3 separate regions of the Homo sapiens genome follow, and all the other regions are linked to region 1. The links come from fine-mapping of genetic effects on gene expression. A gene starts in region 1. Each other region holds a variant in brackets. All regions are shown on one strand. Distances are between the middles of the regions. Region 1 holds the start of ABTB1 (ankyrin repeat and BTB domain containing 1). Region 2 overlaps MGLL (monoglyceride lipase). Region 3 overlaps MGLL (monoglyceride lipase).

Region 1 (7,694 bases):
ACGTGCACCCAGGACGCAGCGATGCACCCGGAATGGCTTCCCGTGTACTACAAAGACCACGTCACTGTGGATGCCCTGCTCTAGAAGCCTGGGGAGGGACAAGCCAGGAGGGAGGATACTTGGCACAGCCCCACCCCATTCCTCGGAGCACTCAGAACCCAGTGCAGGCCACAGTCAGAGCAGACTCGCCACACCCACCAGGGCCACCGCACCCCATGCTGCACCCCTCGTGTGCCCTGGCTCACCGCTGCAAGAAGTCGTCATAGTAATCCCGCCTCCTGCAGGAAGCCGTGACCTGCTTGTAATCGCGTAGAGCCCGGCGGATGGGGTCACTCAGTGCCCCATAGAGGCAGCGCTCACCATCGAAGGTGTTGGCCTCGCAGCGGGCTCCTGGGGGAGGCAGGGCTCACCAGTTAGCAGGGAAGGGGCCTGGGGGAAATTCTAATCTCCCTGTCCCTCCTCCCCACCTTCCCACACATGGGGCTCCGAATCTCTGGCGATGCCTTCCCAAATTACCCTGGGCCCACTCTGACCCCAACACCCTCCCAGTCAAGGGCTAGGCGAATGGGCACGTCTGTGTGCACTCACACAGGCACATACTCACTCACACGGAAGACAGACAACACAGAACGGAGAGCTGACTTGGTGGCTGGGCTTGTCCCACACACTGGAGCACAGCAGTGAACGAGACACAGGTCCCTGTCCTGCTGAACTTATACTCTAGTGAGGCAGGACAATCAACCCACTACCTAACGATGGCAGGGACTATTAAGAAAAACAAGCCTGGGCGTGGCAGCTCACACCTATAATCCAGGCACTTTGCGAGACCAAGGTAGGTGGATCACTTGGGCTCAGGAGTTTGAGACCAACCTGGGCAACATAGTGAGACACCATCTCTGCAAAAAAAATACAAAAACTTGCCGGGCGTGGTGGTGCACGCCTGTAGTCTCAGCTATTTGAAGATTTGAAGGGGCTGAGGCAGGAGGATCACTTGAGCCTGGGAGGTTAAGGCTGCAGTGAACCGAGATCACACTACTACACTCCAGCCTGGGTGACAGAGCAAGACTCTGTCTCCAAAAAAAAAAAAAAAAAAAAGAAAAAACCAAAATAGGAAGAAGAATGGCACTGAATGAAGGGAAGTCATGAAAGGTCACTCTGTAATGGTGGCAGCATGCAGAGACCTGAATGAAGGGGGAGTGGGCCATGTGAACGTTTGCAGAACGGCAGTCCATGCAGGAGGAACTGCAGGTGCAAAGGCCCTGGGGCAGGAACAGGGGCATGCATAGCACAGTGGAGCCCCAGCGAGGCCAGTGTAGCAGCAAGCAAGCAGCAAGCAAGCAGGGAGAGCCGAAGGAATGAGGCCAGTGGGAGGGCAGACCCTGTGGAGCCTTGGGCATGGCCAGGCAGGCTCACTGTATCCTAGAGGCAATGGGAACTTGCTGGAGGATTTTTAGCCGATCAGATTCATTGTGAAAAGATCAACTTGGCTGCAATGGCAAGAGAGAGGCAGGCACCGTGTCCGGGGAGAAATGCTGATGACTGGGCCCAGGTCGTAGAAGTAGAGATGGGCAAGGTGGACAGAGAAAAGGTTTTAAAGTAGCAATAATAGTACTTGCTGATTCGACTGGGTGGTAAGAGAGGAATCGTGGTGCTTTGCAAATGTGTATCAAGGCCTTTGAATGCACGCACGCATGCATGCACCCACACGCACACATGCATGCACCCACGCACACCCGTGAGCCGGGCTCCCTGCTCTCACCATTGGCCAGAAGGTAGAGTACCAGCTCCTCGTGCCCACACAAGCAGGCATAGTACCTGAAGGGAGGAAGGAAGTACAGGAGGCAGTCCTCAGTGCTGAAGGGGTGCACCAACCCCCACCCTCCCCACCCCTCTCTCCAGCACTCACAAGGGGGTGCTGTCCCACTTGTCCCGCACATTCACCTCCACGTCTCGCTGCTCCAGCAGGTACCTGGGCAGGAAGGAGGTCAGAGCCTGGGTCAGGACGGGTTCATGGTCTGAGAAAGAAGGCCCGTGGAAAGGAACGGAGAGAAAACATCCCTTTTGGTATGGGGAAGCCTCCCCCAGGTGAGGGCAGGTGACAGGCAGACCAGAGCAGGAGAGGCACTCAAGGCAAAGTGCAGGCAAGGATGTGGAGGTGGGGTCGAACAGGCAGACACTGTGTGCTATCAGTGCTGGGGGACGATGGGCTACAGGGACAGAAGCCAGAGCCAGTGCCGAGGCTGGACCTTTGGCCTTTCAGCGTTTGGGAGAGGAGGTGATGGAGCCTTCACTCCCACCAGAGCTCTCTACTGCAGGAAGAAGCTGGCCCTGTTAGAAGCAGGGAGCCCGGGAAAAAGCTGCTGCAGGCCTCCTGATGGTGTGGAGGGCACACAATTCTAGGAGGCAGGAGTCGCGGGATACAGCAACTGATGGGATGCGGAAGGTGAGCGAGGGGAGTCGCCAATGCTAATGCAGCCCCACTGAGGCGGGGGCAGCCCAAAGGAGGCCTCCAGGCTGCACCTGGAAGTGCTGTGAACCCACTCAGCGTTGACACTATGCACTAACTCTTGAGTGGCACGGGATGTCAGGGAGCGGCCCAGGGAGGCTACGGGAGTACAGCAGCCCGGCGCCAGCCCAGGGGAGGTGGAAGCAGTCAGTCAGCACCAGGTCAAGGGGGAGGAAGGGCCAAGAAAAAAGGAGGTCAAACGGGATAGTGGAAGCCCAAGGAGGGGAAGGGCCCCAGAACCCAACTGGGCACCCCTTCCCTCCGCGTCCGGCCCATGGAGGGGGCATCTCAGCGCCAGATTCACTTTAGCTGCGTCAGGAGTTTCCGAATCCTCAGGGACCGGAGGCCGATTATGGGCTCTAGGTGTTCCCCGCGCCAGGTCCAGAGAGCACGAGAGAAAGGGGCCACGTCTGGAGTCCCAGGCCTATACCCGCGCCCTGCGCCCGGGGGGTCTGACGTCCGGGCCCTACCAGGGCGAACAGTGGCCCGCCTTCTCTCCGCCCACTTCTGCGCCTTCGGGCCTCCGCTGAGCAGTCCCTTCTTACAGGAAGCCCTCCGGGGGTCAATGGCCATCAGTGTCCCCGCCCCAGCGCGCTTCCGCTGGGGGGCTGCGGCGGGGGTCCGGGTGGTCTGCCCCGCGGGGGCGCTCCGAGGGCTGTGACCCGGCAGAGGCGCCCGCCTCTCCGCGGCCGCCCAGCCGCCCGTCCCAGGGCCCGAGGCGTTCCGAGGGCGGCCACCTCCCGCACCCTCCCCGGGACTGCGAGGTCCTCACCGCACTCGGCCCACATCCCCCTTCCTGCAGCTGGCGAACAGGTCGCTGGTGTCCATGGCGCGGAGGATGGTACCCGAGCCGAACGACCTCGGGCGGCGAAGCCGCGCACCCGGCGGATGTAAACACGCTCAGCCCCGCCCCGCCCCGCTCTGCAGCGGCGTCCGGAGGACCCGCCCGCCCCGGCCTCCCCGCCCCGCGGCCCCGCCCCTGCCCCGGGGTGCCCCGCCCGCCCCGCCCCGCCCCAACCCCGGAAATAAGAATGAGTCAAGAAGGCAGACGCGCTGGGCCCGGCGTGGTCTCCGGGCGGGTTTAATTGAGTCCCGGGGCGCAGGAAGCGCCGCCCGCCGCCCGCGGGGCCGGGGTTCAGGGGCGGGAAAGCGGGGCCAAGGCGGGCTTTGAGGCCTGCCCCTCGGGCGGGAGTGAGGGAGTTGGTCCGAAGCCGCCGTGTGAAGTCGGGGGAAGCGGGAAGGAGCCCGCGCCGAGGGCCAGGCCGCGGGGGCGGCCCGGGTAGGCGCGGGGCTGGTGCGGGCTCCGGGCCGTCCGTTTCGGGGTCCACCTCGCTTGGTCCTGGCGGCCCACTCGGCCTGCGCCTCGGCTGCGCTCACAGGTGCGTGTCCTCCTCGAACACGTCCGAGTCCTCGGGGTCCCGCTTGCCCCCCATGAGCGCCCCCCAGCTCCCCGGGCCGTTGAGGGCCCCGCCGCCGTTCAGGCTGGGGTGCTTCTCCTGCATCTCCGACTGGCTGTCGCTGGCCACGTCCAGCGTGGGGTTGTCGTGGCAGCCGTTCTCCACGAAGCGCAGCTCCTCGCCGTGCGACTGAGGCGGGGTGGGGAGAGGCCATGGGCGAGCGAGCCAGCCCCCGGACAGCGCCAGGCCCGCGGCCGTCTGTGCAACCCCACCCAGGGGGTTCCCGCGGCACCCTCCACAGGTGCCAGATCCTTCTTTTCTGTTGCTGCAGCTCAACTCCTTTCTCAAAATAAACCTACTAGTCGTTGGCACTACAAAGCCCCGTGGCCTCCCTGACGTCATCGATCCCCCAACAGCCCCCTAAGAAGACTCCACTTGCGAGGTGGGCAGGGAGCATCGCTAGGGCTCTGCTCGCTTCCTCCTGGGGAGGCCTCTAGGCTGCTGGAGCCTCTCCTTGATCCTTGGGCACCACCAACGCAGGGCCTGCCTCTGGTGAGGTATTCAGGTGCTCAGGCCCTGCAGTGCCTGCGCCGGAAAGGGGCTGGTGGTGCCAGGGAGGGGCCCCCTGGTGGGGCTAGCAGCCCCCTCACTCCCTGCACCTCTGGCACCTGTCCTGGGGCTGGTGCCCTGCAGAGCAGTCAGCAGTGCTAGGCTGACCAGCTGCTTCACCCACGGGACCCTGTGCGCCCAGGAGAGTCACTGCCTCCCCTTGCAGATGAGGACACCTATCGATGGGCACTCTCCTCTCAACTGGCCCCCAGCCCCACCTGTCCCCACACTCACCACGTGCTTGAGCTTGGGCAGCCGGCGCTGCCAGCAGTTGTAGAGCAGGCCAAGCGCAATGATGATGATGCAGATGGCCCCAATGACCACCAGCACCACGAAGAGCGTGCCGTAGTCGCTGCGCACCTGGCTGGCCCGCGCCTGGCAGCTGCTGGTTGTGGAATAGTTCTGGATGCCAATCTAGGGGTGGGAGGGGCCAGTTTCCTCAGCTGAGGTCCTGGGGTGCCATGGCTCCTCTGGGGTGGTTGCATTGGGCTCGGGTGGGGATGGGGGAGCAGGCTTAGAAGGTGCTGGCACTCCCGGCTCCTGAAGTTCCCTGGCGCCTGGGCTTGCCTCTACCCCATGCCCATCCCGTTTGCCTCAGTACACCTGGAGGCCTCTCCACCCCATGCCCATGTTCCCAGCCTCCTTCACATCCCACCATAGCTTCTGCCCCAGCCGCTGAGTCTGAGCTCACTGTGGCCCTAGGCCTCCAGTGAGAGTGGACCCATGCTGCTGGACACCATCCAACTAGAGAGAGTGCCCACACCTATCCTAACTAGTTAGAGAGACAGGAGATGTGAGCCCCCCACACATCCTCCACCATACAACCGCTTCCACCTCGGTGGGGAGGGGTGGACCAGTCAGCTTCCTGATGCCAGGGCCGGTGCAGGGAGGGATACTGAGGGCATGCAGGCCACATGGGGGGCCACCCCGGCTGCCCAGCTTCCTCCCTTCCCATGGCGTGTTCACTGCTGGCATGTAGCTGCCTGCATCCCTCCACGCTGCAGGTTGTCATGGTCAGTCCTGCCTTCTCTGGCCAAGGAGATCGGCGCCAGGGGCCAGGCAGGTGCTATCTCCACAGATCAGCATCTTAGCAGAGAGAAGCAGGAGGGCGAGCACCACCAGGGGCTCCTCAGGTGAGGGATCAGGGCAGTTCCCAGTGCTGAGGCCTAGGTTGCACCAGGCCCCCTTTCTGAGTTCAGGTTGCAGCTCTTCCCCGGTTTCTGTGAACCACCCGTGTATCTCCAGTACTTTTCTCAATTTTTTGTTATCAAGGGTCAGTTTTTCTTGCTAGATTCACCTGAGTATATTTCCAAAGACCCAGCATGACTTTTGGCCAAGTCAGTGTGAATTAAGTGACCAGTAACGCCAGAATACTCAGGGGCAGCGAAAAGCAGGGGGAGGACTGTATAAAAGGTCAAGGTTAGCCCACACTTCCACCAGCAGCCCCACTGTTCATGGACCCACGATTCCAGAACTGGGAAGGGCCTCAGTGGCCCTCCAGGCAGTAGAGCAGTGTGGTGAAAGGCCCGGGCTCCGGAATCAGGCTTCCTGCAAAGCCTGGCTCTACCGCTTACTGCTGGTGCCATCTCAGACAGGTCACCTAACCTCTCCCGCTTCAGCTCTCATCTTCCATGGGGACACCATTGGTACTCAACAGGTGCCTCACTTAACCCTCACAACCCCATGGGGTGGTGGCGAGGACTGAGGGAGAGAGCCTTGCACAGTGTGGTGCTCAGTGGGCATTCGACATGCTCACCAGAAAAGCACCACCACCAGGGCCTCTGCTCCCCTGGCATGCAAGGATGAAGAGGCGGCCAGCATTATACCACTCATCTCTCCTGCCAAAAATGGCAGCACCTTCGGGAGTGGAGAGGGCTGATGACAGGGCACTGGACTCTACAGTGAGCAAAGGCAGTTTTGGTGGAGATGGTGGCTGTCCTCAAGAAGTGAGATGAGGAACAGAAGGACCCCATAGGCAAGGTGGTGTGAGGAGCAGGACTGGGGGACCCTGCCATCCCATCCAAGCTTGTGCGGCAGCTGGGTAGGAGAGGTTGATCGGGATGGGCCAGGCAGCCAGCAGACTGCACTGGGTGGGGGCACCTCCTAAGATGGCAGGGCTGCCTCCTGGCCCCCAGGCGCCGCATCTCACCGCAGCAGGAGCGCAGGGCCTGGCCGTGCAAGCACCAGTAGATTCACACGTCCACGCCAAGTCACATGTCCAGGTCTCCCAGGCTTGCTCTTTTGGTTTCTGGAACCCATCATGCTCGCCCCTCCCACCAGGCAGCATGGTGTCTCTGCCACTGTCTACCCAGAAAACTCCCAGTTAACCCTCACTGCTCCCCAGACCCTTCCTCTCTGGGCCCTCTCCTGACTGTCAGCCTCTTAGCACAGCCCCCACACCCCCATGGCCCCTTTCTGCCCCTGGCCATTGCCTGCATTGGACCTTTGGTTGGTAGCATGCACATGCACCGTCTTTCCCACAAAACCATGTCTAAGGGAGGCCTGAAGCAAGGAACCTGCCCAGAGCACGCTCTGTCTTATACTCCTTTGAACCTCACGATGTGGGCAGACTCCTGGGACTTTGAGGAACAGAGACAGGAGGGAGCATATTAGAAGCTAACAGGTCCAGGTCCCTGCACTCTTACCTCCTCCAGGCTCCTGCGGATGTCACCCAGCATGGAAAGGACATCTTGAGTGGGCACCACCCCTGGGGGGTAAGAAACACCACTATCAGTGTGACCATGGCTGAGGTGCGTGCCCCTCCAAGGGCTCTGGCCCCGCTCTCCAACAGCTGGCCTGAGCCTCTGTCTCCCTTCCTGGCTCAAATTGCACACAGATCCTCAAGGCACATGCCTCCCCCTCTCTTAGACATGCTTTCCACTGCATCGATCTGTTAGAACATCGATTTGTATAACACCAGCCAGCCACTTGCGAAGCCCACACACTGCCTTCTGAACACACCCCTTCTCCCCTGCCACACCAGGTACAGTGTCCATTCATCTCCCACCTGTGCTGGACCACACCTGTTCCCCTGCCTCCTGTTCCCCATCCTTAATTCTCACACCCTCCTCCTTGTCCCCAGAACCCAAGCTGGTGGGTACACCTTGACCACTAAGCTAAGTAGCTCAAACTACTGTCCTGGAGTTCCAAGTTTCAAAGCCCTTATGCGTGCACTTTTTTCC
Region 2 (5,000 bases), 38 kb before region 1:
GTTTGAAAATACCCCAGTCCTTGTGCAGAGTTCCCAGAATTCCAAGTTTTCCTTTCCCAGGCTCGTTCTTGGAGCTGGCCCATGATACTAGCTGGACTCTTGAACATTCCTGACCCATCACGGCCACCCTTCGAGGCTTCCGATTATGCAGACACACCATGCCCCTGCACAGTGCTCAAAGTCAGGCTGCCGCATGCTTCTATACTAGACAGTCAAAGTCGGAGCCCAGGGCTCAGCAAAGCACCTGGCACAGTGGCGGCTGCAGAATGAGATCTGCTTGCCTGGATGCCAAGGCTGGAGGGCAGTAAGCTTCGGTATCCTCAGAGGCAGGGGGCTGCCACCTTTGCACTAAGAAGGAATTACTGATTTCTACCATTTGAGAAAAGGAGTGTTGACCACATGGAACTCCGAATAGGTTCATGCACATGGAACAAAGCCCTTTAGGAGAAAAGCCCGTTTTTTGCTGTCTGCCTGATACTGGATGGTTGAGAAACAATCGTGGTGGGCAGTCACGCCACACTTGTGCGGGCCTAGGACACAGGAAGGTTTAGCCCTGGCCTACAGGGAGGGTGGGCAAGCACAGCAATCTTGTCCCCCAAAAGAACATCAGTGGCCGCTGGTGCCAAGACCCACGGGAAGGTTAGAGCTCTGGGTTACATTTGTGGAGAGAGACACAGACAGCGGCAGAGACAGAGACGTAGTAATCCAGGCTGTGTGGCATAAGAAGATAAAGCGGCCCCCCAGCCCGGGGCCCCTCCCATGGACCTCATGGTACCGAGCCTCCATTTTCTCATCTGTTCAGTGAGGATGAAGCCTCATCTCCCAGGGTTTTTGCAAAGACAGGGAGACTGGCCGGGCGCCGTGGCTTACGCCTATAATCCCAGCACCTTGGGAGGCCGAGGCAGGCGGATCACAAGGTCAGGAGTTTGAGACCAGCCTAACCAACATGGTGAAACCCCGTCTCTACTAAAAATACAAAAATTAGGCAGGCGTGGTGGCACGCGCCTGTAATCCCAGCTACTCAGGAGGCTGAGGCAGGAGAATCACTTGAACCCAGGAGGCAGAGGTTGCAGTGAGCCGAGATTGCGCCACTGCACTCCAGCCTGGGTGACAGAGCAAGACTCTCAAAAAAAAAAAAAAAAAGATAGGGAAACTGTGCCCAATGCACCAGAAGGTGGTTCCTCGGTGCCTGTGAGTGCCCTTGCCCTCTGCCAAGGGTACTGAGCTACGTGCCCTGTGCCCTTGATGTACACTGAGAATTCACTGCTTGCCACCTTCCGTCCAATTCTAATTTCAGCATTTCACAGCTCACTTTTGAAATAGCATCTTTCATCCCCAAATGTCTGTGCACATTGCAGAAATGAAAACAGCCCCTCTCTGAAGGCAGAAGTGTGAGATCCGGGTTCTCTGTTTTCCTGGGAAAACAAGAGATCCAGAAGGAGAGATGGGGGAGGGGGTGGGAAGGTTTGGGCCTCAATCAGGCTCAAGTTCAATGAGCATGTGTTAAGCTCCTGCTGTGTTCCCTGGGCTTTTGCACACAGGGTGTTATTCACCTTCCCCGTGGTCCTCTGGGGGAGGGTCAAGGTCCCACTGGCAGCTGAGGAAACGGAGGCTCAGCGATGTGGAAATCCCAGCCCATGTTCACGAGGCAGCAGAGCTAGGAATCAAACCCAGCAATCCTTCCCTCTGCCACACAGCCTCCTCATCGAGCTGGTGCTATTTCTACTTCCACCCGAGAGAAATGGACGCACACTTTCTCTGTGTGGCTCCTGTGGGCCCTTCCGCACTGCCCTGCTTCGTGCTCAGTTGATCTGTGTGATTCTGCACCTGCCGTGTATTTTCAGTACCCCAGAGAAATGGCCAGAGCTCATCCCAGGCAACTCTTGCCAGTGATGCAAAATTACAACCCATGAGCGATCATGGGGA[G/C]GGTATAGAGCGGGCAAAATTCAGACGTGACTTCCCACCTTGGGCGCAGCGGCTGCCTGGCCAGCTCCCCCAAGGTGGAGCAGAGCCAGGCTGAATAGAGGCTGAGTCAGAAGGGAGAGTCCTTGGGCATGCAGGCTTAAGGACGCAGGCTTGGGAGACGAACCTGGCTGATGTTCAGTTTGGGCATCACTCTCCTTAATGTACTGTAAACTGTCACTGCGGAAGAGCCGGGTGTGGATGCCACTTGTGCTCACAGCCCTTGTTTTCCCTCCCCGGCTAGGTCCTTGCTGCGAAAGTGCTCAACCTTGTGCTGCCAAACTTGTCCCTCGGGCCCATCGACTCCAGCGTGCTCTCTCGGAATAAGACAGAGGTGAGAGGCTTTCCGAAACCCCAGGGGTAGCTTGGGTGGCTGCCCCCATGGGGAATCAGAGTTTTGGCTCCAGCCTTGGCATTCTCTGCTGCCCTTTCACCGAGGCCCTGTGCAAAGTGACAAGGACACAGTGGTGCATTAGACATGGTTGGCTTCAGGTTTGGGTGAAAAGGGTGGGTTGGCTATGATGCCTGAGCTGTGTTCTAAACATGAAAGGAGCCAACAGTGGAAGTTGAGTGTGTGCCAGTCAAGTCTCTTGGTTGCAAGAGACAGAAACCTACATCAAAGTGATTTAAGCAAAAGCAGGGATTTTGTGGTGAATGGAACTGAAGGCTTCAGACATGGCTGGATCCAGGGCGTTGAAAGTCTTATTCTCCATCGGTCTCTTCCCAGCTTTCATCTCCCCTGGTTTGGCTTCATTCCCAGACAGGCTTTCCCCCAGTGAAGGCCAAGAGGGCCACCAGCAGGTTTACCTGAGCAACCCCAGTGGAAAAACAGCACCTCTTTCCAGCAAAAGTCTCAGGGCTGATTCTTACTGACTGATTATCCAGGCCTGGATTATTTGTCCAGGAAAGGGGGGTAGTATCATCCCCACCCACTGAGAGTAGAGGAAGGGGATCCCTGGGGGTAACTCAGAATAGTGGTAGCAAAGGAAGGACAGACCCATATTGCAGATGAGCAAACTGAGCCCCATAACGTGGGATGACTTGCTTGGGGTCAGCCAGTGGTGAGGCTAGCCTGGGAACGTGGGTAGGTGTGGTCTCCAGCTGTGCTCTGTCTGGGTATGGGAGTGGGCTTGCAGTTAATGGGTAGGAAGCATCCAGAAGACACCAGCATTATCTTCATGATTAAGCAAATAAGTTTGCCACTCTTCTGCCTCAGTTGCCCTCTTGCTTTAGGAGTTTGAAATCATTGAATCACTGGCTCCCTAAATCACTGAATCACTGGCTCCCTAAAGGGCCCTGGGAAGTGGAGTGCAGTGCTCTAGCATTCTGGGGATGTTCCCAGACTTCCTTGGGCTGTTGGACTCTAGCTTCATTATAAACTGTGGCCTTCTGGCCCTCTGAGTCACTTAGAGAGTGGGCAACTCAAGAGGAATAGCCCGTGGTGTGTAGGAAAGAGACTTTCTAGATCAGGGGTTGAAAACTCCTAGGCCTCTGAGGGCCAGCTGCTTAAAAATCAGACTGGTGAGAGATTCTAGCAAGCCATGAGGCCTGTGTGGAGCCAGAGGGCATCTGATCCATCCAACCCATCCACATTAATTTAAAATTCTAATATAATTTGGTTTTTAAAGCCCACAGTGCCTCCCAAACCTACATCTTGGGGCCAGGTTGGACCCATTAGGGACCAGTGTGTGGCCCCTGGTCTTTCTGAAAGAATATCTGAATAAAGGAAAAAAACTTTAATTCCAAAAAGCAGATTCATACAGTGAAAGAGCACAACTTTAGGACCCAGAAAGACCAAAGCCAAATATACACTGTTTGATTTAATCCTGACATGAATGAGATCGACATTAACCCCATTTCACAGATGAAGAAACTGAGGCTTGGAGAGGTTAAATAACCTGTTCAAGATTGCACAACTAGTCAGGGGCAGAGATGGGATTTTAGCCCATTTTATTCAAAAGTCCATGCTTTGGTGCCTCCCTCTAGCTAGTAATTATGGTCATTAAGCTCTGTTTCCTGTTTTACAATTGATTGCTGGTCCACGCAGCCCATGGCCATGGCCATTGCTCTCTGTACGGGACCCACTTTGACAGGGAAACTCAGTGTGGGGCAGGGGCTCCTGCACCTGCCTGCATCCCTCATAATGGCTCTAGCTTGAAGGTGTGGTGTCTGGTAAAACCAGTGATCTTTGTAGCGGCAGTGCCAGGACAACAGTAGGTTTGAGAAAGATGGGTCAGGGAGGGAGGGGCCTCCCTTTAAGACAAAGCACCCAGGTGCAAATCCACGTTGTTTATCTGAACACCTGAAAATACACGGGCAAAGAGGAAGAAAAAAACAGGTACTAAAAAGAGATTCCAAACCCTCTCTATTTAAAAGCATCCAATTTCAGATCTTTTCTCTCCTTTTTGCAATAATGAGAAATTCTTCGGTCTTACTCAGGATGGAAGCACCTGGTGGGGCTCCCCTCCTCTGTTCCTGCCCCACCCACAGCCCCCATCCGAGCCCTCCTGCCTCGGGTTTCTGGCTGCCCAGGTCATCAGTTATTTAGAAACACTAATAAATGTCCCTGCTGAGAAGACATGAGGAAGGGAGGTGGCCGGTCAGCCCCAAGGCTGGACTGCAGTTGGAAAAATCAAGAGCACGCCTTTCCCTCCCTCGCCTGCCGCAGCTCTGCGTCTCCCTCTGAACGTTCTGCTGAGCTTTAAAAATAGCAACGCTGAGGGGAAAATGTGTTGGGAAAGGCATCTAACATCGGGGTGTCTTGAGGCACATCTTTAGCTAAGACATTTCCCATGGAACCCTGCAGCTATAAAAGCCTCAAACCAAAAAGAAATGTTTGCCTAAGAAGCTGAGTGAGCAGGACTATGGGGGATGGGCCACTGGCCGGGAATCGAGGGTGCAGGGGCCTGGGACTCAAGAGTGCACAGGCCCCAGGGAAGATCTGGAATTCTGTCTGAAGGGAAGCGGGTTAGCTCTGTTGCCAGAATGTCAGAAGCAGAATGTTTGGTGTTTGCTGTGACAAGCATTCTCACAACCCA
Region 3 (5,000 bases), 87 kb before region 1:
GGACTCCTCAAAGGAACTTTAAAATAGGTAGGGTCAGGGCTGGCTTCGCTTTGACACAGCCCTTAAGAAAGGCTGGGGGTGGGAATGGGCAGAGTCTGTCTTGTGAGCTGAGCCTTTCTGAAGTGGGAGCTCAAACAGCATGTGACCAGGAAATGGCTGGCCCACCAAGAACTAAAAATAAACGGCTGTAATGCTGCCAACCGTCAGGGCAGGCGGGGAGGACGCGGAGAGCTCAGGAGCAGAGCCCAGTGGGGTCCTGCTCAAAATGAAAAGAGAACCGCATGCCGGCAGACAAGGTGCTTCATGTGTCACTAACGTGGAAGCAATAAACCACGACTGCACTGTCAGGCTGCCCTTTCTGAAGGGCTTCATATTCTCTATTTCATTTCATTTCATTTTCCAAGGCAGGTAAAGCCATCGTCATTTTCATTTTACAGGAGAGACAACAAGCCAGGAGTGGTAGAGCCAGGATCAGAATTCCAAATCACAGATCTATTAAGCTGTGTTCTCGGTGTCTTGGTTTCTCCCCTGTTAGAGGTAAAGGGAGAAATTAAAAAGCAAACAGAGGACCCAAACCTTGCATGGGATCCTCAGATGCAGTCACAACTCCCCGGCAAGTGCGCTGGGTGCACTACGCATATTTAGTGCTTGTCTGGGCATTTGAGAATGAAGCTCTGCCTGGAGTCCCTCCCTGAAGAGCTGGGGTCCCAAGGGCCCGGCCGATGAAGCGAGGAGCCGAACGTGCCAGGAGGGAGGCAGCCTGCGTGGCAGTCCAGCTCTGCCCACGGCCGGCTGTGCGCCAGCCCTCTCTGTGCCTCCGTGTCCTCACCAGCCAAAAGAGGAAACCCACAGTACCTTTGTGGTGGACTGGTGTAGCCCAGTCGCTTAGGGGAACACGTGGACACACACACAGAAGGCACTTGAAATGCAGCTTGAAGGGCAGTTTGCAGTCTCTGGTCCAGGCAGTGCAGAAGTGGCCTCTTTGACTGCTGTCTCTGAGTGTTCTGTGGCTTCCACCCTGGCTGTGGAGGTTAGTACTGCTTGCTGGAGAAGGAGGAGCCCTGGGGAGGCCTCCACCCTGGTCCCTCAAAGCTTCTCATCCCCACCCTAAACTAAGCCAGCACCCCCAACACAACACGGTGGCTCTAACAAGACACAGCAGCAGGGGAGAAGCCAGTTTGCCCAGTGGGCCCTGGAAAGTGACGCAGTCTGGTCATCAGCACCCCAGAAATCCCTCCCAGGCGGTGGGCCCCTTGATAGTGCGAAGGGTCCGGATGGCCACAGGGAATTGTACGTTATCTGAACACAGCAACTGGGGCCTCTGCTCTCCGCATCTGTGTGGCACCTTGCTCATAGCAGCTGCTCAGTGAAGGCTTGCAGAATTACAAGGCATTTCACAGAAATGATGGTTTCTTTGGATACGCTCAAGTTCACACTTGTGAATCCTGTATGTGTGGGTATGAATTTGGCCTGGAGGATGAGCCCTGTTTAAAGAAAATCAAATAACGCTTGCCCAGCTGGAAAAATCCATGACTTCTGTGCTAATAATTTTTTCCACGGATCACCCCATTTAATCCTACGGCAGCAGAGTAAGGCAGGCAACGTCCCTATGGAGGAAACAAGCTCAGAGATGCTGCCTGATTTATTCAAGCTCACAGTCATTAGGGGGCAAAGTCGGACTGAAATTCTTACACACTTGCACCTTGCTACAGTTTTAACTTTTGGGAAAATGCTTTGGGGTGCAGAGCCGCAGGTTCCATTGGACCAGCGCCCCCCAATCAGTGCTGTGCCTCTGAGCAGCTTGGCGTGGGGCACAGCCCCCAGGCGAGTGGCCCTGGGGTTTCTGCATCATCTGACAGAAGTGCCGCAGCGGCTCCAGGAATAGCTTGCGACGCGCAGTCTGTCAGGGGTGCCGTGCCAGCTCCTCACCTCGCCTCCTGCCAAGGCTCTGCTAGAAGATGCTCTGACTCCCAGAGGTGGCGCCTGAGCCTGGATGAGGGACAGAGCCAGCATCGGGGCTGACTGCAGGGGGAGAACAAGGTCCTTTCACCTTCATTCCTCAGCACCCACGTGCCCTGTGTGGCATGGTGTGAGCCCAGAGGGGTTGGTCCCCTGTTGACAAGTGGAGCTTAGCCCAGAGAGTTCTGTTATGTGAACCTGCTGGGTGGAGGCAGAGTGGCCTGGCCTACTCTTTATACCTGTGTGTCCAGGACAGTCACTTGACCTCTCTGAGCCTCAGATTTCCCATCTGTATGTTAGGCCTGAGGCTTCCTATGGAAACGTTAGCTCATAGGACCCCACACAAACTCAATGTCCCATAAATGGATGCTTCCACCCCTGTGTGGCTCTGCCCTTCCCTCCCGTCATCTTTCCTTTGCTTTTCTTTGAAAGCTGTGTGCACATCCAGCGCTCTCCCTGCTACACCACTGGCTTCCTTTCTCCAACGCAGAAAACCAAGCCGTCTAAGCAGGGCCTGCCCGCAAAGACAGTCAATGTGAGAGGCAGGGGCCAGCTGCCTCCTCCTCAGAGTCGTGGAGAAGTGCTGGATCATTCAGACCCCATAATCATAATTATTTCTCTCCTCAGTTATTGTACAGACGCCACCAGATTGGAAAAATCACTTAAAGGTTTTATTCAGTGGAAGCTTTCTTACC[A/G]AAAAAGGAGAATCATCTGAAGGCCAAAGGGACCGATTCCAAGGACCCTGTGTTGAGTGAGGGAGAAGGAGCTGGGCTGATCTGAGCAGGTAGGAGCTCTGCATCAGGCCACTCCTTCCTCCCAGTCCACACGAGAACCAAGAGTCTCTGAAGTCATCGGGATCTCTGGGCTCAAAGCATCTCTGTAAAGTGGCACTGCTTCTGTGAATTACATTCTCTCTTCCCTTCCTTGGAAAATGACCTCTAAGCAGGGGAAGGTGCAGTGAGACATGAGAACATGCCCACAGCTGAGATTTTTAAATGGCCGCAGGTGAACACAGACATCCCTCTTGAGCACGTGATTCAGAAGAGAGGCACACCCACCTCCAGTGAGCATCTACTGTGTACCAGGCACGGTGCTGAGAGCCTTGGTCACATCAGGTGTGGTAGGGGACCAAGGGAGGGGTAAGGACAGTCCCGCAGAGGTTGGAGATGTTAGCCAGGGTCACGCATAGCAGAGAGAAGGGTTGAGAGCCGCCTGACTCTGTGTCTCAGTTGCTGGGGTCACAGAATAGGAGAGCTGGTTTATAATAATGGACGCTGTGAGAAATAGCTGCCAGGGCCGGGCGCAGTGGCTCACGCCTGTAATCCCAGCACTTTGGGAGACCGAGGCAGGTTGATCACTTGAGGTCAGGAGTTCAAGACCAGCCTGGCCAACATGGCGAAACCTCATCTCTACTAAATACAAAAATTAGCCAGGCTTGGTGGCATGTACCTGTAATCCCAGCTAGCTACTCAGGACGCTGAGGCAGGAGAATCACTTGAACCTGGGAGGCAGAGGTTGCAGTGAGCCTAGATCACACCACTGCACTCCAGCCTGGGCAACAGAGCAAGACTCTGTCTCAAAAAAAAAAAAAAAGAAAAGAAAAGAAAAAAAAAAGAAAAAGAAAGAAATAGGTGCCAGGAGCCCCCAGAATATCCTTTCCTGTGAGGGTCATGTTTACAACTTACAGCCAGTGCACTTTTGCACATTTTCAAGAATGATATTTTTCTCCCTAGCAATTGCTTGTCATGATATGAAAAATCGACCCATTATCCCATTGTTTTTTATAACACATATCTGATTTTTAAAGACCCTTTTAAAGGGGAAGACAGAAAAGAAAATTACAGGTGACTTCCCCCATTCTCCTCGCTCGGTACAGCCGAATTGTTAGGAAAGGAGACTGGCACTTTGTCAGCACTAACAACGGAACACACCATTTAATTATACAAGGCTCAGGGGCTGCTCTAAGAGGGCCAAGCTGACCTGGGCTTCTGTCTAGCTTGAAAAACTTCTAGCTATTGACTTTTTGCAAGCTCCTTCACATCTCCAAGCCTCATTCGTGTATTTATTCATTCGTTCAGTCTATAATGTATTAGCTTGATGCCCAGTTACCAACTCCAGGCATGGTGCTGGGCACAGGAGATGCAGCTGTGAACAAAACAGACACAAGTCCCTGCCCTTGGCAGACAATGAGCAGCAATAAATGACTTTAGGGTATGTCCATTGGAGATAAGTGCCACAAAGCAAAATAAAACCTTGGAGGAGGAGGGCGGGGCAGTGGGGGCAGGGGGCCATGCTCAAGCTGCTGGCTCCACTGAGAAAGTGGTAGTTGAGCAAAGACCCAAAGGAGGCAAGGAGGAGCCTCACAGATGACCAGGGGAAAAGGGGGTGGCCAGTGCAAAGGTCCTGGGGCAGGAGGGTGCCTGACTCATGAACAGTCGGGAGACAGGAGGTGAGGTGAGAGGAGAGCACTGTAGGAGAGGAGACAGAGGTCGTGTGCAGCTGGCCACACAGGGCCCAGAGATCCTCAGTTTTCTCCTCTATAAAACAGGAACAGAAGCCCCCAGGCAGCTCCCGTACAGATTTGATGGAATAACATCAGCCAAGTACCTACAGGTGTGCTAGGTGCCCCACCAGTGTAAGCAAGTGTGCGTTTCTTCCCGGCACTCCTGTATCAGCAATCTGTTTACAAGGTGTCGATGACACGTGGCTGAACACATCTGGGTCAGGAGGACCCTGAGCTTGGATTCGGATCTACCCAGGTTGGGGTCAAGAAACACTCTCTCGGAGGCAGGTCCCCCAGCTTCGTGACACTGTCACAGCTTTCTTCATTGTCCCCAAGGTTCTTTGGGTGCTTTTTCTTTTAGGGAGTTCAATGAAGAGTTTCTTTCTCTGGTGTAGTCACTTCACTTGGAGTTACGATTCCTGCTGGAGTTGGCAACTGGGCATCTAGCTAATCTCAGTGTTCTTTGAAAGCGGAGAGTTCCAGAGCTAAGTCATCAATTTCTTGAAGCCAAAAGCCATCTCACTGGTTGTATATATGT

Evidence for each region. PIP is the estimated chance that this variant, and not a neighbour inherited with it, causes the effect.
Region 2: its variant is the best candidate, but not a certain one, in a credible set for the expression of ABTB1 in whole blood (TOPMed, PIP 0.88).
Region 3: its variant is the best candidate, but not a certain one, in a credible set for the expression of ABTB1 in skeletal muscle (GTEx, PIP 0.84).

Annotation. Positions count from the first base shown.
Region 1 is chr3:127,668,666-127,676,359 of GRCh38, reverse strand. ABTB1 (ankyrin repeat and BTB domain containing 1) reads right to left here and starts at 3,408. Exons shown (of 12, transcript NM_172027.3): 1 at 3,279-3,408; 2 at 1,907-1,969; 3 at 1,760-1,815; 4 at 246-390; 5 at 1-88. The coding sequence starts at 3,334. PODXL2 (podocalyxin like 2) reads right to left here. Exons shown (of 8, transcript NM_015720.4): 6 at 7,158-7,219; 7 at 4,747-4,926; 8 at 3,558-4,092. The coding sequence ends at 3,880. RefSeq lists silencers at 3,037-3,296, 3,437-4,036, 4,047-4,126.
Region 2 is chr3:127,707,872-127,712,871 of GRCh38, reverse strand. MGLL (monoglyceride lipase) reads left to right here. Exons shown (of 8, transcript NM_007283.7): 6 at 2,207-2,296. Among named protein-coding and RNA genes, the nearest start is that of ABTB1, 37 kb to the right of the region's middle. The variant G/C (reference allele first, on the strand shown) is at 1,927.
Region 3 is chr3:127,757,478-127,762,477 of GRCh38, reverse strand. All of the region lies in intron 3 of MGLL (monoglyceride lipase), which reads left to right. Among named protein-coding and RNA genes, the nearest start is that of MGLL, 63 kb to the left of the region's middle. The variant A/G (reference allele first, on the strand shown) is at 2,655.